3 linked regions of the Homo sapiens genome follow. The protein of the gene in region 2 interacts with the protein of the main gene of each other region in a pairwise test. Each region holds a gene or a part of one and is shown on either strand. Other genes may lie near its edges.

What was found. Proteins that work in one complex are often made in the same cells at the same time.
Region 1: the proteins of BAG4 (region 2) and ALG13 interact in binary tests that used the Homo sapiens proteins (3 or more experiments, as listed by UniProt).
Region 3: the proteins of BAG4 (region 2) and TRAPPC6A interact in binary tests that used the Homo sapiens proteins (3 or more experiments, as listed by UniProt).

Annotation. Positions count from the first base shown.
Region 1 is NC_000023.11:111,676,721-111,684,573, reverse strand, and holds the start of ALG13 (UDP-N-acetylglucosamine transferase subunit ALG13), read right to left. Parts: upstream 3,405-7,853; 5' UTR 3,356-3,404; coding exon 3,275-3,355; exon of another isoform or gene 3,150-3,274; intron 2,918-3,149; exon of another isoform or gene 2,748-2,917; intron 2,443-2,747; coding exon 2,280-2,442; coding exon of another isoform or gene 2,274-2,279; intron 1-2,273. UniProt on the Homo sapiens protein: Catalytic subunit of the UDP-N-acetylglucosamine transferase complex that operates in the biosynthetic pathway of dolichol-linked oligosaccharides, the glycan precursors employed in protein asparagine (N)-glycosylation.
Region 2 is NC_000008.11:38,207,498-38,214,354, reverse strand, and holds the end of BAG4 (BAG family molecular chaperone regulator 4), read right to left. Parts: intron 6,844-6,857; coding exon 6,589-6,843; intron 5,343-6,588; coding exon 5,088-5,342; intron 4,348-5,087; coding exon 3,862-4,347; 3' UTR 1,054-3,861; downstream 1-1,053. UniProt on the Homo sapiens protein: Inhibits the chaperone activity of HSP70/HSC70 by promoting substrate release. Prevents constitutive TNFRSF1A signaling. Negative regulator of PRKN translocation to damaged mitochondria.
Region 3 is NC_000019.10:45,167,834-45,175,237, forward strand, and holds part of TRAPPC6A (trafficking protein particle complex subunit 6A), read right to left. Parts: intron 1-7,404. UniProt on the Homo sapiens protein: May play a role in vesicular transport during the biogenesis of melanosomes.

The sequences.
Region 1 (7,853 bases), on a different chromosome or scaffold from region 2:
GTGGGAGGATCGCTTGAGCCCAGGAGTTCAAGACCACTCTCTGCAACATAGAGAGACCTTGTCTCTACTAAAAAATCAAAATAAAAACAAAAACAATAAGGCATGGTGGTTGTGGTCCCAGCTACTGGGGAGCCTGAGGCGGAAGGACTGCTTGAGCCCAAGAGTTGGAGCTTGAAGTGAGCTATGATTGCACCACTGCACCCTGTCTTGGGTGACAGAGTGAGAACTCACCTCAAAAAAAAAGGAAAAAAAAAAGCAGTTGAAAATATTCTAAATAGAAAATGCATTTAATACACCTAACCCACCACACATCACAGCTTAGCCTAGCCTACCTTAAACATGCTCAGAACACACTTACATTAGCCTGTGGTTGGGCAAAATCATCTAACACAAAACCTATTTTATGATAAAGTGTTGACTATCTCATGCCATTTATTAAATACTCCAAGTGTAAAACAGAATGGTTATATGGGTACTCGAAGAGCGGTTTCTACTGAATGTGTATGCGTATTGCTTTCACACCACCATAAAGTTGAAAAACTCTAAGTGAAACCATTGTACGATGGGCCATCTGGAGTATGCTTTGGGCATGGCCTTGAATCCAAATAAGATCCAGGTTTGACATACTGTATGTGAAACTATACTTCATTTCTATTCAACCCCAAGTAGAAAAGCAAGCCTACAATAGAGACAGACAGGCATCAATAATGAAAAACCCTGACCACTTCTTATGGGTTTACATGTGAGGTGCTATCCCAGAAATAGTCAAGGATAGATCTCCATGAATATGCAAATATAGAATATTAGGATCAATTCAATTTTGAAATGTAAAATCATCTAACTATTTTAAATGAGAGCAAGGAGATTGATAAGTGAGTAGATAAGTCCTTTTTGGGTATCTTATGCTAGGGTGGTTAGTTAACAACATTAACTCCGGAGGGGTGCAGTGGATCATGCCTGTAATCCTAGCACTTTGAGAGGCCGAGGCAGGTGGATTGCCTGAGCTCAGGAGTTTGAGACCAGCCTGGGCAACACGGTGAAACCCCGTCTCTACTAAAATACAAAGAAAAAAAAAATTAGCCGGGGCGTGGTAGTGTGCACCTGTAATCTCAGCTACTGGGGAGGCTGAGACAGGAGAATCGCTTGAACCCGGGAGGTGGAGGTTGCAGTGAGCCGAGATAGCATCACTGCATTCCAGCCTGGGTGACAGAGTGAAACTCCGTCCCAGAAAAAAAAAAAAAAAAAAATAGAAAGAAAGGAAAGGAAAAGAAAAGAAAAAAAGAACATAAACTCCAGCACCAGATTGTTATCTGTCCACCACTTCCCGGCTGGACAAATTACTTAACCACTCTTGTGTCTCAGTTTCCTCATGTGTAAAATGGAGATACTAACAGTACTTAGTTCACAGGATTGTTTAAAAAAGTAAAGTTAATATACACAAAGCATTCAGAGCAGTGCCAAAGGCTCTGTTACCTCCTAGGAGATACATTTTTAATCACGAATCTGTTGGTAATGTCTATTTCTAAAGACTTTTCTCTCCTCAAACTAGACTTTAAAAAAAAAAAAGAAAGGAAAAAACGAAACACCTTTCTTCACAACAGTCAAAACTGCATTGCTCCCCAAAAGCAGTTCTTCTGAATGCACTAGAAGTCTAATTAACTAGACCATCAGGGCGGTCCTCTGAAGAGGAAACAATTTACACAGTATGTAGCTGTTATTATTTTTGACTGGATTCATTTCACTCACATTCAACAGAAATGTAAACAATCTTACAATTCCAATTTCTCCATGACCAATCCAACCAATCAGCAGGCAGAACACTCCTTTAGATCTAAGCCCAAGTACTAATGTCAAGTTGACAATTTATTACACTTCCCCGGGTAAATTATTTTGCTCCTCTGTGTTTAGGGTTTTTTATTGTAAAGGTGGACTACAGTGGTTAATTTCCCATTCTTCTCTCACCCCAAAATACTAAGTTCTCTCCAGTAAAGTTCTCAATTGTCATATTCAAATAAGTTGTGTATTCAAAAAGGGCTACAGTGAGTTCAGCTAGCGATTTTATTTTACCTCGAAAAGGTTCAAGTGTCAGTTCCTTATTGGAGGGAGAGCATCAGGATAAAAAGCTAATGGATGCTGGGCTTAATACCTAGGTGATGCATGGCACACGTTTACCTTTGTAACAAGCCCGCACATCCTGCACATGTACCCCCAGAATACCCCAGAACTTAAAAAAAATTAAAATTAAAAGACCCAACCCTGAGATTCTTAGGCACCTTTACCTGCGTGACTAATAACAAGATCTGCTTTCTGAATGTCTTCTTTCAAGGAATCCTTGTACCTGTAAACATCCAGAGTAAACGACTCAGTACTGAAGGGTTCAGGTACCACCGTTCCTCTACCAATTTGCAGGATAAGTCGGTTGTAACCAAGGCTCTCGATTTTCTGAAAGAGGAAATCAGAATGTGAGGGCCTTTTAAACTGGCTATGTAAAACAGAGCAGGAACCACCACCACTACTAAAGTTTGACGTTAACATCGGAGCACGGCCGCCAAAAAGCCTATCTGTGGCCGATTTCACTTAGTTTTCAAAACTATTTTCTGGTCCGGGGCCCGACGAGGAACCTCCCAAGCACTCATGAATCTAAGCGACCCAGCTCGCAGAGTCCCGCGAAAGCCACAGCAGGAAAAGACTTTGGAAAAGGAGTCGCAAACTCGGGGGGAACCCAGGCACTACCCGTTCTGCCTCACTTGATCAACTGCGAGAACCGGGAGCCCTGAGGGGACGACGCGCGCTGAGGAGAGGAACCGCGCGGGCTCCGGCCAAGTGCTGAGGGGAAGGAGCCGGGCTCTGAGGCGAGCTCGGCTGGCTCAGACGCCGGCGCCGACGTGCGGTCCACAGGGGGGCCTGAGGAAAAACTGCCGAGCCCGGTGGAAAACCCGAGCTCGGAGGGGCGGAGCCGTTGGAAGGAGGGGCGGAGGACGCGGAGGCGGAGAATAGAGCGCGGGGGCAGACCGGAAAAGGAGCTGAAGAAATGAGGGAGAGGAGCGGCCGGAATAATGGGAAGAGGAAACAGGCAACCCCGAGTGGCCGGGTAGCCGGAGAAGGGCCCCGCCGGGCGTGGGCAGAAGCCAGCTAAGGGGCAGCGGCACCTGTGGTAGAGTTGCGGGGGTTTCTTTCCGAGCGCGACGGTCAGGCAAGGCTAACGCGGCTGGCAGTATGGCCGGAGATGGCGGGTGGCGAGCCAAGCCGCCGCCTGCTCGCCTCCCTCACTCACTTGCAGACTGTCGGGCGCCGACACACACGCAATGAGGTCGTCAAAGCTGGTGGTCCCTACGGTAACAAACACGCACTTCATGGCGCGGGTTCCTCAAGCCCTGATCGCAAGGGCCGGATATGACGCAACTGAGGCCACGCACGTTGCAGTGACTGCCTTCTGTGAGGGAGGCGGAAATCCGTAATGGCCGCCAGGGGGCGGCGGGGCCCCGGGCTGTGTCACCGGTTGGGTGGGGCAAAAGACTATTGGTGGCCTAGGTACCAGCCACTGTTCTAAGCCCTTTATGTGTAGGAGCCAGCTCTTGAGACCCCTCACTATAAGGGAATGGGGAATTGCCAAATGTAATTAACTTTTTCAAAACTGATGGGTAAAAAAAAAAAACATCATACCCTAAGCATTGAGTTGGTGTCGTTGCGTGGGTACCACAATCTTTTAATGACAGACAAGTTTGAGATTTTTTTGTTTGCTGCCAGGTTTTGTCAAGATACATTTGAGAGATGGTTTTACTTCGAGTTGGCTAAGGGGATATGAAAAATAAAAGTGCCTTACCAGGCACAGTGGCTGTAATCCCAAGCTACTGGGAAGAATCACTTGAGCCCAGGAGTTAAGACTAGCCTGGGCAACATAGCAAAACCCTTGTCTCTAAAAATATTATTTTTTAGGCCAGGTGCCATCGCTCAAGTATGTAATCCCAGCACTTTGGGAGGCCAAGGCAGGTATATTATTGAGGTCAGAAGTTCCAGACCAGCCTGGGCAACATGGTGAAATCCTGTCTCTCCTAAAAATACAAAAATTAGCCGGGCGTGGTGGCAGGCTCCTGTAATCCCAGCTACTCAGGAGGGTGAGGCACGACAATTGCTTGAGCCCAGGAGACAGAGGTTTCAGTGAGCCCAAGATCCTGCCATTGCACTCCAGCCTGGGTGACACAGAATGAGACCCTGTCTCAAACAAACAAAAAAAATTTAATTAGCCGGGGGTGGGAGCACCCACCTGTGTTCCTAGCTAGTCAGAAGGCTGAGGCTGCAGTGAGCCATGATCACACCACTGCACTGCAGCCTGGACGACAGTGAGACCCCGTCTCGAAAAAATAAAAAAACTAAAAATAAAAGGCATCTTATAAGGTATGGGGTCTTGCTCTGTTGCCCAGGCTTGATTCTAACTCCTGGGCTCAAGCAGTCCTCCTGTGGCAGGCCACGTCTCACTAACGGAGGCCTCCATAACAACTGTTTCAGTACTGAGTGGTGAAGTTAATATTAAAAGCTAAAAAAAGCCAGTGCCCTTATACAAAGGCTGGAATGTAACTAAAGCCCACCAAGAGTTTTGCCTAGGCCTTTCCTGGGCCCTAAAGCATGACAAAATAACAAAGGAAGTCTTAACATTACCCATTTAGGATTAAACAAGTTTTATTGTGGGTCTGAAGAAACTCCCCAGGCCTCCACAAACAAGTTTGTTGGGAGTCCGAAGGAACTCCCCAAACCTCTGTGATTTAGCAGGAGACAAGATAAGGGTAATCACGCCAGCACCTGGACTCATTTAGATTTTTTTTTTTTTTTTTTGAGACGGAGTCTCGCTCTGTCACCCAGGCTGGAGTGCAGTGACACAATCTCGGCTCACTGCAAGCTCTGCCTTCCGGGTTCACGCCATTCTCCTGCCTCAGCCTCTCAAGTAGCTGGGAATACAGGCACCCACCACCACGCCCGGCTAATTTGTTGTATTTTTAGTAGCGACGGGGTTTCACCATGTTAGCCAGGATGGTCTCGAACTCCTGACCTCATGATCCACCCACCTTGGCCTCCCAAAGTGCTGGGATTACAGGCGTGAGCCACCGCACCTTGCCGGACCCATTTAGATTAAGTAAATTTACTGAGGCTCCAGAGGAAGATCTTCAAGATTCAGACCTTATTTATAGATTAAAAGAAGTTAATCACTTATGTCTTTAGATGAATGCACACTTACATGTAGACATATAGCTTAGAAGGTATATAAGCTCTGGAAAACATCGTGATTTTGAGTTGGTTTCGTGATAATATCCAGGCCTTTTCCCTGTAAACAGTTACAGAAATAAAAACTCTCTTCCTCCACAGTTTATCTGCATCTTGTTATTAGGTCACGAGAAATAGCAGCCCCACCCTCAGTTTGGTCCGAGAGCACTCCCGCCTCCGCCTCCACCTCCCAAGTAGCTGGGACTACAGGTGCATCAAAAGTGGCTTTTAGAAAATCACTCTAACTGGCTGGGCACGGTGGCTCACGCCTGCAATCACAGCACTTTGGGAGGCCGAGGTGGGTGGATCACAAGGTCAGGAGCTTGAGGCCAGCCTGGCCAGCATGGTGAAACCCCATCTCTACTAAAAATACAAAAATTAGCCAGGCACGGTGGCGGGCACCTGTAATCCCAGCTACTTGGGAGGCTGAGGCAGGAGAATCACTTGTACCTGGGAGGCGGAGGTTGCAGTGAGCTGAGATTGTGTCACTGCACTCTAGCCTGGGCAACAGAGCAAGATTCTGTCTCAAAAAAAAAAAAAATCGCTCCAACTTGGGCTCTTCTACCAACTGTGGTTCTCAGAAAACCAGGGCCCTCTAGGGTCCCCTGGAAGCTGCAAACAGTTAACCTCCATTAGCAAGCATGACTTGTAAAATAGAGGTGATAAAGCCTGAAGCATTGATCTACAATCTATTGAATTATTCCAGTGAACCATTTAAATATAACATTACACATTAGGACGATAAAGTACCACAGATAAATTACACTTAGGCAGGCACATATAGGAGAGGTTATTTCTCAAAACTCTCCTTTTTTCTCCTACCACCATCATAACCATTGTTAAGATAATTGCTCACTCTATCTCCTTCTAATGTTTTGTGTATTCCCTATTTAAAATATCACCTTAGCTCATATTTGTGCTTTGCCCTGCCTGGATATATACAGAAGAGAGGCTGTGAGAAGAAATTATTTTAAGGAGGAAAAGGATTGGAGGTAAATTGGGCCTAGAACATAGCCTGAGAAGACCCTTGGGCCTATTTCTACAGGATGTTTCCTTTAAATCTTGTAGCTTAGGCAGTTGTCCTTTTGAAGAGTAGCATGCACAATGGCAGGAAAACTCACCAGCTGCCTTTCTGAAAGTGACATCCAACAGAGACTTCTGGTTGGGACTTGGAAACTACCCAATCAGGACTCAGCTGTTTTCAACTAATGGGGACTACTTTTGAGTTGTTTATTTGCATACACAAACTTGATTAAGGGCTGGGAGGAGAACTTTCCCTATTTAAGCCAGACCCACTCTTTGTTCTTCGGAGCACTTAGTTTACATTGGAGGCTGTGTTCCCCCATCTGCAGATCTCGGGCTCTTAGGCTGAGGTCTCCGAGACTTTGTTTTCTCCAGGGAGCATGTTCACTTGCCTCTATGGGCCCTGTGGGGTACACTCACACTTCGTGGAGTACTTTTGCATTTTGCAATGTACTTGTGCTTGGTGGAGTATGCTCACATTTCAAGTTTTGTGGGGACACTCATGTTTCTGTTGTACTCAAAGGGATGCCTTTGTTATAGTGCCATGGGTAACCCATGTTCTAAGGTAATGGTCTCCAACCAGCCACCTTATGGTGCACTGATGACTTTTATATTTAAAAACCTATGGAGAAAATTCTTGTGCCTATTTAAGGCTCTGGATGAAACTTTTGGATTTAAAACTTCTTTGGCTACATTGGGGAGCTTTCTGTATCCCTAATCAAATTTATTTATGCCTGCAATTAGAACAAAGACGAATCTAGGCCTCTCAAAGACAATATAAGGCTTTCCTTAATAGGTACTATGAAAACTCCAAATGGAATCAAGAATTTCAGACTGCCTTCTTGAGAGAAACTAATTCCGAACTCAGTGCCTCCAAAAACTTGAAAATCCTCCTAGCCCAGATTCTGTTCCCAAGAAGGACTCAAACCCTTTGTTCCTCTTCCTTTCACTCCCTCTGCACTACCTCTACTTTATTCTCCTCTGCCACTACCTTCTTCACTTTCTGAACCTCCTTTTTTCTCCTCACTGTCTATCCCAGGCACACTACCCATAACCCCTCAACTCCTCTTATTGCCCCATTTAAAATAAGTGAAAATGTAGAGGGAGGTCAAACCATTTCTTACATTCCTTAGTCTAAATCTGAACTCTTGGCGATTGTCCTAAAACTGACTTCCTTGAATTTGAATGCCACTTTCATTTAATCGTAAGCGCATACTAGCCCAGACTCACCAAAATCTATCAATTAATTCACATGCTGGGGGTCATTTTTGTGGCTCAAACATGTATATGCCTAACTAAATGGATAAAACCTCCAGAGGACTGCCATTTCAAAAGGGACATGGCCATAACAAAAGCAAAGAAAATAACCTGTGATTTGTTAAAGGTCATTCCAGTGCTTTTTCTCTGGCAAATTAATTGGAAAGCCATTCAACGATTCACTCAAAAAAAAGATGAGTCTGCTTAGATTATTTTGACTGGTTCAAAAAGGCTTTCCAAGCTGGGTGTGGTGACTCACACCTGTAATCTCAGCACTTTAGGAGGCTGAGGCAGGAGGATCACTTGAGGTCAGGAGT
Region 2 (6,857 bases):
CCACTGCACTCCATCCTGGGTGACAGAGCAAGACTCTGTCTCAAAAAAAAAAAAAGTAAAGAAAACATATATATATATATATAGAGAGAGAGAGAGAGAGAGAGAGAGAGAGAGAGAGAGAAAGAGAGAGAGAGAGAAACCTGGAAACCTGGCCAGGCACAGTGGCTCACACCTGTAATTCCAGCACTTTGGGAGGCCAAGGTGGGCAGATCACCTGAGGTCAGGAGTTCGAGACCAGCCTGGCCAACATGGTGAAACCCCGCCTCTACTAAAAATACAAAAATTAGCTGGACGTGGTGGTACATGTCTGCAATCCCAGCTACTCAGGAGGCTGAGGCAGGAGAATGGCTTGAACCTGGGAAGTGGAGGTTGCAGTGAGCCGAGATCGCGCCATTGCACTCCCACCTGGGCGACAGAGCAAGACTCCGTCTCAAAAAAAACATAAAAACTCAGTTGAAGCTGGTTGAGGTGGTCCATGCCTGTAGTCGCAGCTACCCAGGAGGCTGAGGCAGAAGGATCACTTGAGCCCAGGAATTTAAGACCAGCATAGCAAGACTCTTGTCTCTAAAAACAAAATTTTTTGATTAACAAAAGAAAAACTCAGTTGAAAGTGGTTGCCTTTAGAGAAGGAGAAATGGGGGTGGGATCAGGAGAATGCTGCCTTTCATAGAACTGACTTTTTAAACTCGTAACTTCTACGAATTGAGGTAAACTCCTTACTTTTTTAAAAAAATAAGTAAAAAAAAGTAAAGTTGTAAAAGAAAAGCTCCATCAACTATCCATCCCCCAAAAACTTTTTTATGCCTATTTAATCTACATTCTTCAAAATTTTTTTAACCTGCCTAGCTTTAATGGTATTATTTACATTAACCAACTGAAAAACTGTTTTCAGAACCCCATTTTTAAAAGCATTTAAAAGAATTCTGCACCAACATGTGGAGACACATATAATCCAACCCCTGTATACTTCATTAGGGCTTATTTGTTTAAACAGTTTCATTGGCATTCATACTTGGAACAACAGAGGGTTATTATAAAAAAAAAAAAACATAGTTGTGTTTATCATGCCAGGACTGGGTAACTTTATTCAAGACTTTGACAAAATGATCCCCAAAGTAATATAAATGTAGACACTTTAAAAAGTCCAGATGTGAAATTTCAAGAAAACTTTGAATTCAGTCCAAAGTCAGTATTAAGTCAAAAGTTGAACCAATTCTACAAATCATAAATACTATTTTCCTTCTTAAGTTCATATATTTTCTGAGATAGATTACCAACTTAGTTTTCTTTGATATTGGTATTTGGAATAATTTTAACATGATTTAACATCTTTAAGTTCTAAATCTATACTTATCCTGAATATCTTATTATAGTTAAAAATATAAATCCAGAACTGACAACTCTTCCTTACAGAAGAATTCCAATAATAAATGTAGAAGGATTGAGAGAAATAGAAAATCACCATTAGAACACCACAGTAGTAACTGCCACAAGCAAGATCTGCCAATGGATAGTAAAATGAGCAAAAGTTTAAGCAGAAACGGGACATTTGCATAGTCTCCGGGTATCTCCAGCAAATATTCAATAATTACAAGGAAAACACAGTAAGTTTACAGTAGCGAATCCTAGCAGACACCACCTTAGCATAGTGATCAAGGTTAACAACACCAGAAATACATTACAACATCAGGTATCCCCTGTTATGATACACTGTCACAGACTGGAAGACAGGACGTAGGCATGATAGCTAAATGCAAGGCTGGGTCTTGGAACAGTAAAAGGACATTAGTGAAAAGACTAAAATCTCTACTTTTTAAACTTTCTACTTTAGTTAGTATTATATCAAGGTTAATTTCTTAATTTTGACAAATGTTCTATTGTTACGTAAGATGTTAACATAAGGGCAAGGTGGGTGCAGAGTATACAAGAACTCTACTACTTTTACAACTCTTCTGTAAGTCTAAAATTATCTCAAAAGCTTAAAAAATAACTGTTAGAAAACAAACATGTATGTGCATAACATGTGTACATATATATAAATCAAGACTTCATGGAAATTGGCATCTTGGGCACTCAGTCAGTAAAAGAATAGTGTTCTCTTCTGAATTATTCATTGTCTTACTGGTAGCTTAGCTTTAAGGTCCTCCCCCTTCTAGACTTTTAATTTCAAGTATAAATTTCTAATTTTCATAGAAAAGCCTTTTTTAAACATTCCTATATTAGGCCAAAAATAAAATCCTAGAATAAAATTATCACCATATTATCTTATAAAATCACTCATCCCAATCATAAGACCCAGCCAGTATTTTTACTACATTTCCTCTCCTCATCTGTTTGTATTGGTTTGGTTTGGTTTATGAGTGGGGACAGCTAATAGATTTAGTATTTACTCATAGGCCTGACAGTCTAGGGGAAAAAAAATTATCACTTGGGTATCTTATGAAGAAACAGCTATTTTTCCAAGAACCAATATTGTGTACTCACCTCAGACATAAAAAGTTATTTACCTAAGTCTCTTCTATCTAACAGCATAGAGTTACCCAAACAAGGCCAATAAAGACCCTTTCAATATCCTTTTCTTAAATTTGGCTCTAAAATGACTGTTAATAATGGTAATAAATGTCTTTTTATTAAACAGACAATTTTATCTTATGCAATTTAGGGAAATAAACATAAAATCTACCTTTAAATGAAGAAAATAATAATTTCCCACTCTAACTATGGCTGATTCATTCCCTGAGCATGAATCCCATTTTACCCTCATTGTTTTTAACTATAAACTGAGCTGAAATCTGCTCACAGGTGAAACTAGTATTTTAGATGGAGAATGATATTACCAAGTAATCATATTTATTACTTTTTGTAGTAATTATTTCTACTCACTGTGGCATTTAATGTTTCATCTGTAACTCTCTATCACAATGCCCTCTATAGAAGCAGCAATAGTGAAAACATAACTACACTTTGGGGAAAAAAAAAAAAAACAGGAAAAAACAGATAACTTTTAAGTGGATCTTTATCCAAATACAATAAAAAAGCAAAAAAGAAAAGTGTCCGTAAACATTTTCATTTTATGTCAATGCCATTTCCAAATTTACCTTCCACTACTACCATGAACAGCAGAAGTGGTAAAAAAAAAAAAAAAAAAAAAAGAAGAAAAAAACTCTAACCTAATGATCTATAGAAAAAGGGAGACAATTTACTCACTACACATTGCAGTATATTCAAGTGGTGAAAAGATATAAATTTTTTCAGAACTGCCATACTATCTGGCTGTCAATATAGTCTCTTGAATAATTATATTAAACATATTACTACAAAATGTACCAAGAAGTAGAGAATAATACTATATTTGTAAACTGCAAATAACAAAACAAAACAGAAGTCCAAGAAGGCTAAAGTCTAAGCTATAATTACACATGAAGTATATGTTGAAAGCAGTCACAATGTACAAAAATGTGACAAGATATCCAGATGTTTAAAAAAACACATCCTGTTTGTCTCAGATTATATCCAGTTTCATCTGGTAGGTTTCTGATAAGCCTGTTGTGTGAAGTGTGTTTCCCTCCTGCTGGTAAGAAGCAGCTTGTAGATATCCATAAATTTTTTAAGGAGTGAGTCTACTTGGCAATATTGGTAACTCCATAGTTTCCTATTACATTCATTCGTCTGAAAACTGAAAACAACTCATGACTAAAATATTCTTCCATTCCTTTGCCAGTTTTTCAAGTATAAAATCAAAGGAAAGCTGGAATGTATTGCTTCTTGTCATCAACAGGCATTTCAAAAAGAGGGTAATTAACCAAATCAAGTGTTCTTTGGTCAAGTTAGTAACAGGCTTCCACTTTGTTCTAAATCCTTTCATAATCCTTTTTTTTCTAATTTTTCCAGTATGGCCTGAATCTTACAAACAGCCTCTTTTCTGGCCTGCCGTACAGAGTCCTGGCCCCCAGTTTCAACTGAATCCAGTTCCAAAAGTTCCTTGGTTAGCATTTCTTCCAGAAGCCAGTATGCTTTGTCTGTCTTTTTTCCTACAAATTCTTCTACTTCTTGTTCAAGATACTGGACCTTCTCCAGCACATGTATGATTTTTTTAATACTCGGAGGAGTACTTTCATCTGAAGGTACACATTCTTCAGGAAGACTGCTACTTTGATCTTGATTGTTGGGATGGTCACTGGTGGCATTACCATACAGCTGAGGCTCAGCACTATACTGGACTTGGGAATCCAAAAGATCTGAATCATCATTGTTCACTGTCCCCGAGGATTCGTACTGATGGACACTGCAAGGAAAGTTGTGCCGGTTCATGCTTTGATCTGATTGGCTATAGGGGTATGAAGAATCCTTGGAGTGGGAGAGCAAAAAGAGGAAAAGAGCTGTTTTAATGGGAATGCATCAACATCAAATTTGTTAGCCCACATCTTTCACTTGACCAGAAAGGTACATGAAAAGATTCCCTAACAATAAAATTGGACCCCTCTCCTTAATCATTTGCAAAAAAACACAGTCCTAAGAAGATAAAAGGGAGTGCCCTGTCAGACAAAAGGCACAGAATTTTTGAGTTATAATGGCTGGAACCTGCCCTGTGGCAGGTCCATCACCATGAGCACCTCATAGTCCATCCTGTGACCTAATTAATAAGAATTAGTTTTTCCCCTAAAAGGTTAAAAACCTCAAGCAAGGTCTTGAAAAGGAACACAGCCACAAGTGATAATGTTCAAGTCTGTGGTTTAAATACAAGCTCATGCTACAGATATTTCACATTGGTTTTGTCTTCTGTTCATAGATTATTTGAAGTAGTAAAATGCATCTTTGCATTTAACGTTTAGAAGAATTACAACAAACAGAAAATGTGTATCTTTCTGTCTTTTAACAAAAACGATGTGAATCTAAATCTTCTCTAAATATAAAGTCTATTAAAAAAAAGAAAAAGGAAACCGAGCTGAGGTAAAGCTATAGATAAGTAGTCACCAACTTTTTGTAATTAGTCCCCATTTAACACAAACCAGTACAGAAACTATATAAACCATGTTATGTTCTCCTAATTACACACACATTAAAGGAACAACATTTAGGTCTCCTACCTTGGGCTGCTGGACTGGGGGTGAAGGGGGTGACTGGGGAGAGCCACTGCTAGGCCATGGTGAAGTACTTTCAGTCATGTAGAGATTGCCGGGTGGTGCTGAGGGCGCTGATGAAGGCCAGGGATAACGGCCACCCATTCCATAAGCACCAGGAGAAGCCCACGCATCTTCTTGTGGTCGTACAGTCGGTCCTGATTGTGGAACACTACGATTACCATCTCCATAAGGATAATGGGGCAGGGTCATTCCAGGGTTCTAGATTGAGAAGAAGAAATATACCAGTCATTGTGAAAAACTTATAATAAAAATATTCTGCTACAGGCAGATTCTGAGATGCTTCCTCTCTTCTTAACAGAGTATACATTAGCTGCTACCGGACTAAACTGTAGTAAATCTAATTAATCAGCTGCAGTAATTTCTCCAAGCCTCAAAAAGTTGGTTCCAAAGATACCAGGGGTAGATTTAATGACAATAAAACTCAGAAGGAATAAGGCCTAAAAATTCAATGGATGAAACCCAAGTCTGTCCCATAGATACTATAAACAAACGGACCCATATGCTATAAGGAAGCACAAATAAAGACATGTTAGAACTCCTCTTGAAGTGAACAGAGAAATAAACATAGTTATTCACAGAATATTAAAAAAACATGAACCTGGCCAGGCGCGGTGGCTCACGCCTGTAATCCCAGCACTTTGGGAGGCTGAGATGGGCGGATCACGAGGTCAGGAGATCGAGACCATCCTGGCTAACAAGGTGAAACCCCATCTCTACTAAAAATACAAAAAAAATTAGCTGGGCGCGGTGGCGGGCGCTTGTAGTCCCAGCTACTCGGGAGGCTGAGGCCGGAGAATGGCATGAACCCAGGAGGTGGAGCTTGCAGTGAGCCTAGACCGTGCCACTGCACTCCAGCCTGGGCGACAGAGCGAGACTCCGTCTCAAAAAAAAAAAAAAAAAAAAGAACCTAACAGGGTGCTAAAAAAGGCTAAGATTTGCCTGGCACGGTGGCTCATGCCTGTAATCCCAGCACTTTGGGAGGCCGAGGGGGGCAGATCACGAGGTCAGGAGATCAAGACCATCCTGGCCAACATGGTGAAACCCCATCTCTACTAAAAATACAAAAATGAGCTGGGCGTGATGGCGCGTGCTTGTAATCCCAGCTACTTGGGAGGCTGAGGCAGAAGAATTGCTTGAACCCAGGAGGTAGAGGTTGCAGTGAGCCAAGATCACGCCACAAAAAAAAAAAAAAGGCTAAGATAGGGAAACTTTCAAGCAGCAACTCTCTAAAGATTACTTTCAGTATAAAAATTTATGATTATGACCTTCAGCCAAAGTCCATTTACTGCAATAGCTGCCACAAATAAGAAAGGCATCAATATAAAAGCCTTCCCAATCTAGAAGTGTCTTATTAAATCAGCACTAGTATGAACAGATGCTCTTCCACTGTTTACAAGAGGCAGAGACTTTGAATTCATTTTTTTCCCAATAGAAAACAACTCACCTGTGAAGGCGGATATCCTGGAACCTGCCCCCTAAGAGGGGGTGCTTCAGTCTGACAGTCCTGCTGGGGATAGATCCAACGAGAGACTGGAGTTGGGCTGTTGCCAGATGAACGGTAAGTACTTGGAACTTCTGTGGAGTAACTGGTCTGAGTATAACCAGGTGCATAATAAGCCCCTGAGTATGAGGCAGTATTTGCCCCAGGGCCTGGGGGGTATGTTGGACCATACGCTCCATTTGTATAAGAATTCAAACTCTGAAAAAAACCAA
Region 3 (7,404 bases), on a different chromosome or scaffold from region 2:
ACAAAAAATACAAAAGTTAGCCAGGTGTGGTGGCATGCACCCGTGTCCCAGCTACTTGGGAAGCTGAGGCAGGAGGATCATCTGAGCCCAGGAGGTCGCTACTGCAGTGAGCCATGATCATGCCACTGTACTGCAGCCCAGGCAACAGCAAGACCCTGTCTTTTTTTTTTTTTTTTTTTTTTTTTTTGAGACAGAGTCTCGCCCTGTCGCCCAGGCTGGAGTGCAGTGGCGCAATCTCGGCTCACTGCAAGCTCCGCCTCCCGGGTTCACGCCATTCTCCTGCCTCAGCCTCCTGAGTAGCTGGCACTATAGGCACCCGCCACCACGCCCAGCTAATTTTTTTGTATTTTTAGCAGGGACGGGGTTTCACCATGTTAGCCAGGATGGTCTTGATCTCCTGACCTCGTGATTCACCCACCTCGGCCTCCCAAAGTGCTGGGATTATAGGCGTGAGCCACCGCGCCCGGCCCTGACCCTGTCTTAAAAAATAAATAAAAAACAAAAAACCAGTAAGACATTTACTCGCTTCCTCCAGCTCAGGGTCCTGGGTGGCCAGAGCCCGTCCTGGCAGGGCCAAAAGCAGGAATGGACCCTGGACAGAACGCCATCCCATCACAGGGCGCACACGGGCCCACACTCACTCACACTGGGCCCACGGAGACCCGGGAGCTCACCCAGCGGACACATCCCAAGGATGCACAAGGAAAGGAGAGCCCAGAGGAACTTGCACCAGCACAGGGAGAACCCACAACCACCACCCAGACAATGGTCCCGGGAATCATTATTTTTTCCTCATCAATGTCACAACAAAATGTTATTCCAGGACCGGCATACTGTGTGGCAGGCGTTTTCTACAGCCTTCTTGTTTTACCTTTCCAGCCTCACAGAAGGCTGTAATTCCAGGTGGAAACAGGGGCTCTGAGGTTAAGAAGAACCCATCCAAGGCACCCTCAGCACGGGACTGTCTTTCACACCCCAGCAGGTCCAGATAGGAGGGTGGGTGGGGTGACAGCCATGGCTGTTGAGGGCCTCACGGAGGTGAGGAGCGCTGGGAATGGCGGGGGGGCCTGAGCTGAGGTCGCCCATATCTGAAGCCAAGGTGGCCCTTCCTCTGCCTGGCCCCTTGCCAGGCCTCGCCCTCATGGGTGACAACGACACGGCTTCCTGTTGCACTGTCTCCCTCTGGTGTCACCATCTGCTTTCCTCCAGTGTCCTCAGGCACAGCAGGGCCGGCCACACAGCAGAGGCTCATGGAAGGGGCCGATGACTGCAGGAGACGGGCAGGTGTGTGTGAGAGACAGAGTGGGAAGAGACCCCTGCCCGTGGGTCCTTCATGGCAGCACTACCAGCGGCGCAGGTGCAGAGCCACCGCCTGGGTCCAGATCCGCCCCAGCACTTACCAGTGTGGGACCTGGGCCAATGGCTGAATACCTGTGCCTCAGTTTCCTCATGTAAAAAAGAGGGTCATTTTGTTTGTTTTTGAGATAGGGTCTCATTCTGTCACCCAGGCTGGAGTGCAATGGCACGATCTTGGCTCACTGCAGCCTCTACCTCCTGGGTTCAGGTGATCCTCCTACCTCTGCCTCCCAAGTAGCTGGGACTACAGGTGTGAGCCACTGCGTCCAGCCCAAAGGAGGGGAATATTAATGGCAGCTACCTCCAGGATCCTCACAAGGAGTAAGGGTTGGTAAAGGCAACCTGAGTACTTCAAGGCAGTTCCGGGAGCCTTACTTATTGCATTCACAGCCTCCACATCTGTCAAACAAGGAGACGGCCCCAGCCAATGAGGGATGAAGCCCTTGGCTGGAGGAGAACCCCAGGAAGGAAGGGGGTCTGTTCTGTGGGCTCCTGTAGCCAGCACCTAGAACAGCCCGGGCGAGAGCTCGCTGCCTGGTAGCTGCGGCTCCCGTGTCACCTCCTCCCACAGCGAAGCTCCTGGAGGCAGGGCCCAGGCTGCACTCTGAGGGAACACGTCTGTGTCCACAGCAAAGCTCCCAGAGGCAGGGCCAGGCTGCACTCTGGTGGAACACGTCTGTGTCCCCACTCGCTAAGGGCTCCTTTATGTCCCTCCCTCATTCATGCCACAGACATTTCCTAGTGTCCTCCAGGAGCTCACCTACCTTGCCTGGCAGGGTTGACAGGTGCCCAAATGATGCCAACTGACAATCTGGGAAGGGCTGGGAGACTGAGTGCAAGGGGCCCGGGCAGTGCAGTGCAGAGCCTGCCCTCCAGGAGGGGGCCGGAGGTGGCAGGTATTCCAAGCAAAGGGCATGTGCCAAGGCAGGGGTGAGAGGCGGGGAAGGGAAGGGGCCCTCAGAGTGGGCTGCAGAGGGGGCATTTTCCCCTGCAGGCAAGTGCAGCCAACCTGAGGGTCAACGCAGGCCACGTTGCCTGAATGCCAGCCACAGTGGGCCACAGACTCAGTCCCTGCCCTGCTGGAGCTGGCGTTTCACCCGGGGAATGGGCAAAGGTGCAATGGCCGGCTTCACTATGCTCACAGCGACTGCCAAGAGGGAGGCAGGTGTGCTGCGAGGGTGCACTCCCACCCCTAGGAAGCACCCCGACTGTGCTGAGCCTGAGGGAAGAGGGGGAGTTCAACAGCAGGAGTGGGCTGTGAAGGCACACCAGGCCCAGGTCACAGCCAGGACGGCAGCCCCCGGAGGGGTGAGCTGGGGGAGAGAGTCAGCAGGGTCCTTCAGCCAGGCCAGGAGCGTGGAGTCTGAAGGGGTTCCAGCAAGTTCAGCTTTTCCCTTCATGAACTTCACACTGCCTGGGTTTGAATCTCGGCCCCGCCACTCACTGGCTCTGTGACCTTGGGCAGATTAGCCAACCATCCCGTGCCTCAGTTTCCCCACATGTGCCATGGGGCTAATGGCAGTACCTGCTCACAGTGGTGGTGTGACTGGCAGGTGGCAACAGCTGGATACACGGCTGTGTGACTGCTGGCCCCACTGTACCCAGCCCTGGACAGGGGCCATTCAGATCCTGGCTGAACTGAAAAGGGCTGTGGGGAATCACAGCAAAAGGGAGGGGCCGAGGAGGAGCAGGAGGCAGGGAAGAAAGGGCGGAGGAGGAAGGGAGAAGCCTCCACCCACCTCATCACAGCGAGACCTGGTGGTGTCCATGCCCATGTCACTGCAAAAGCTCTTCAGAGGTTAGGGGTTTATCTTTCTTAAAAACAGAAGGGGCTGGGCGCGGGGGCTCTTGCCTGTAATCCCAGCACTTTGGGAAGCCAAGGCGGGAGGATCACTTGAGGTTAGGAGTTTGAGACCAGCCTGGCCAACATGGCAAAACCCTGTCTCTACTGAAAATACAAAAATTAGCCGGGCGTGGTGGCGCACGCCTATAATCCCAGCTATTCAGGAGGCTGAGCCACCAGGATCGCTTGAACCCGGGAGGCAGAGGTTTCAGTGAGCTGAGATCACACCAACACATTCCAGCCTGGGTGACAGAGCGAGACTCAGTCACAAAACAAAACAAAACAAAACAAAACAAAACAAAACAGAAGGGCTGGCCAGACAGAGACTCTCCCATTCATATGAATCTGCCAGAGCCCAGCCCAGAGCCGGTGCATTTCTGGGGCTCCCCACGCCTGCCTCTGCTGAGTTTACACACAGACCGGATGAAAGGAAAGGTGGAAGGGAAGTCTTATCAGTGTCGGTGCTAATGACATCCACCACACAGGAAGGATCAATCAGACACAAAGCAGAGTTCCTGGAAATGAACAAATATGGTGGCCAAAATCAACACTTTTTAACAAGGGAACTGAATAACAGAGAAACCTGTAAGACAGATAACACCTCCCAGAAGAAAAACAGGAGGGAGGAAAAAATGAGAGAAAAGCTACAGGATGCTTGGAAGAGATGCAGGAAGTCTAATATTCCCTGTGGTGCCTACAGGACATACAGGGAACGATGCAGGAGAAGAAATCATCAGAGAGATCACAGGAGAAAAATGTCCTGAGCTAAAGGAAGATTCACACGTCCAGACTGAAGCCAAGGGGTTGAGCTCCAAGGAGGATGAACGGAAAAAGCAAACCAAAGCCCCTTTAGACACTTGGGAGCTCCTGGTCTCAGACAATGGGTGACAGCGCCTTAGCTCTTTACTACATGCACTCAGGGGAATCCTCTCTTTGCCCAAAGGCTTCCCTTGTCTTCAAAGCCTCTGAGGTAGAAAAGCCACGGCTGCTTCCTCCAAGGGCTTCTCCTCCTTAGAGAACAAAGGCCTTCCTGGCCCCTCTGGCCGGTCCTCCAGTTCACAACCTGTGACAGCCCAGGAGAATGGCCACAAATAACCACCGTACCAGGCAGGATAGGAGGTCACAAAAGCCCTACACACTGGCTGTGGCTCCTGGGCACCTGTGCTGTGGGGACAGAGATGAAGGAGCCACCATCCCTGTCCTCAAGGAGCTCTGAAGCTGGTGGGAAAGGCGGCCTGTGCTACCCAGAAGCCCTGGGGCCAGAAGCCTGAGTTCTAATTTTGCCTTTAAGAGAACATTCTGCCCTGAACTGGGAGGGAGGCGGGTGGGGGCCATGTGCTCCACCCCTTCCTGTCTCTTGTGTCTGCCCTACCCCTCGATTGTTCTCTAGGCACCTGCTAGCTCCTGGGCAGAGGCTGACCCTGTTCAACGCCCACCTGCTGAGCCACTCTGTGCCAGGCCCAGGGGTGTGGTGGGGAACCCAGGGAAGGAGCAGCCCTGGTTAAGAAAAGCACACAGACAGAAGTGCTGGCACACAGATGGGTGAGTGAGGGGTGGGTGCGAGAAGCCTGCAGGACTTCCCTGCTGTTGCCCTCAACTCTCCTCCCTGGTCCAGCAAGGCATCCTGAGCAAGTCCAGATCCTGCCTCTGCCCACTCAGAACTCCCCATCCTGTCCCCTGGCCCAGCCCGGAAGGTTGAGCCCACCACAGCCTCTGCCTTAAGCTCCTGCAACAGCGGGGCCCTTCCCAGGCCAATCTCCATCCAGTCCATTCCTGTGGCCAGGGAGACATTTCTAGAATGTAAATCTGAGCCAGGCGCACCTCAGTTTAAACCCGGCTATGGCTCCCACTGCCTTCGGGATGGAGCCCCAGTTCCCAGGAGGGCCTCGCTGGAGCTCCCAGCCACAGATGCTCAGGACGGTGTTCCGGGCAGGGACCTATCTGACAGCCGCTCCGCCCGCCCCACACCCTCCTCAGATAAGGGGCTGCCCAAGTGCACTCTCGGGGTGTGGTGGATGGAGGCCTGGCGCAGCAGGGCTATTCTCGGGGCGCCTCGGGCCTGGTCTCAGACAATGGGTGACAGCGCCTTAGCTCTTTACTACATGCACTCAGGGGAATCCTCTCTTTGCCCAAAGGCTTCCCTTGTCTTCAAAGCCTCTGAGGTAGAAAAGCCACGGCTGCTTCCTCCAAGGGCTTCTCCTCCTTAGAGAACAAAGGCCTTCCTGGCCCCTCTGGCCGGTCCTCCAGTTCACAACCTGTGACAGCCCAGGAGAATGGCCACAAATAACCACCGTACCAGGCAGGATAGGAGGTCACAAAAGCCCTACACACTGGCTGTGGCTCCTGGGCACCTGTGCTGTGGGGACAGAGATGAAGGAGCCACCATCCCTGTCCTCAAGGAGCTCTGAAGCTGGTGGGAAAGGCGGCCTGCGCTACCCAGAAGCCCTGGGGCCAGAAGCCTGAGTTCTAATTTTGCCTTTGAGTCTTGCTGAACCACCTCGAAATCCCTTCCTCTACCAAGCACAGGGTCCCTCCTCTGTGAATCGGGAGGGCTGTCCTGAGGACTAAATGCAGTCAACACTGTGCAAGTACTGCACAGACGCCCTCAGGAAACGGGAGGCCTGTCTGGTTCAGAGGAACCCTTTTGGGCCAAAGAGAAGGAATGGAGAGAGGAGGTGGGGCCAATAAAGAGAAAGGACTGAGGAAGCCGTTTCTCATGACAGGCCCCCTGAAAAACGGGGCTCCCCAGGAGGAAGGAGTGAGGGGAAACGATGCAGTTCTCACCCCTAGCTGCAGCGAGAGCCACCTGGGAGCTTTCTGAGGCCTGACACTCAGGCCTCACCCCAACCGGGTTCGTCAGAGTCTCTGGTGTGGGACTCCAGCATCGGAATGTAGTGGCAGCTGGGTAGGGAACCCCTGCCCAAGGTCCCAGGCACATTCGTGTGCTCTGAAAGGCTGGTGGTGAGCAGAGCTGAGTAAGCCAGTTTCCCACACTCGCTTGACCACAGAAACCCATTAAAATCCTTCCCAGGGCAAATGCTGGGAAATGCAAGTGAGAGTTTACAGCACAGGCTTTGGAAGTGGGAGGCCTGGTCGCGCTCCTGACTCTGCCACTTGAGAGCAAGGAACTCCGTCCATCAAAGCCTCCGCCGCCTCATCTGTAAATCGGGGAGGACCATGCCAACCTCTCTGGGTCATCAGAAGATCAAATGAAATCAAGAGTGAGAAGCCATGAGTGCACACAGGAAGCACTCATATGAGGGGAGGGAGGGAAGAGCTAGCACTGCTCATAAGCCAAATGAATCCCAGTCCCCACCCATCCCCACCTGCCACGGCACAGGCTCTGCATTCACCTCCTCAACACGTCCACACTGAGGACCCACTACGAGCCAGGACATCCAGTGGTCATCAATACACACCCAGGCCCATCCCGCACAAAGTACACTCCGGCTGGGGGAGACGCATGTGAATTAAAGGATCATACAGATACACAATTCAGACGCATCCTGGCAGGGCGTGCTGGCTCACACCTGTAATCCCAGGTGTGAGTTTTTGGGAGGCTGAGGCCAGAGGATCGCTTGGGCCCAGGAGTTCAAGGTCAGCCTGGGCAACATTGTGAAAACCTATCTCTACAAAAAATTTAAAAATTAGCAGGGTATGGTTGTGTGCACCTGTACTCCTAGCTACTCAGGAGGCTGAGGTGGGAGGATCACTTGAGCCCAGGAGTGTGAGGCTACAGTGAACTATGATCATGCTACTGCACTCCGGCTTGGGTGACAGAGCAAGACTCTCTTTAAAAAAAAATCAGCCGGGCGTGGTGGCTCACGCCTGTAATCCCAGCACTTTGGGAGGCCGAGGTGGGCAGATCATGAGGTCAGGAGATCGAGACCATCCTGCCTAACACATTGAAACCCCGTCTCTACTAAAAATACAAAAAAAAAAAAAATTGCCAGGCGCGGTGGCTCACACCTGTAATCCCAGCACTTTGGGAGGCCAAGGCAGGCAGATCACAAGGTCAGGAGATCGAGACCATCATGGCTAACACAGTGAAACTCTGTCTCTACTAAAAATACAAAAAATTAGCCGGGCGTGGTGGCAGTCACCTGTAGTCCCAGCTACTCGGGAGGCTGAGGCAGAAGAATGGCGTGAACCCGGGAGGCAGAGCTTGCAGTGAGCCCAGATCGCGCCACTGCACTCCAGCCTGG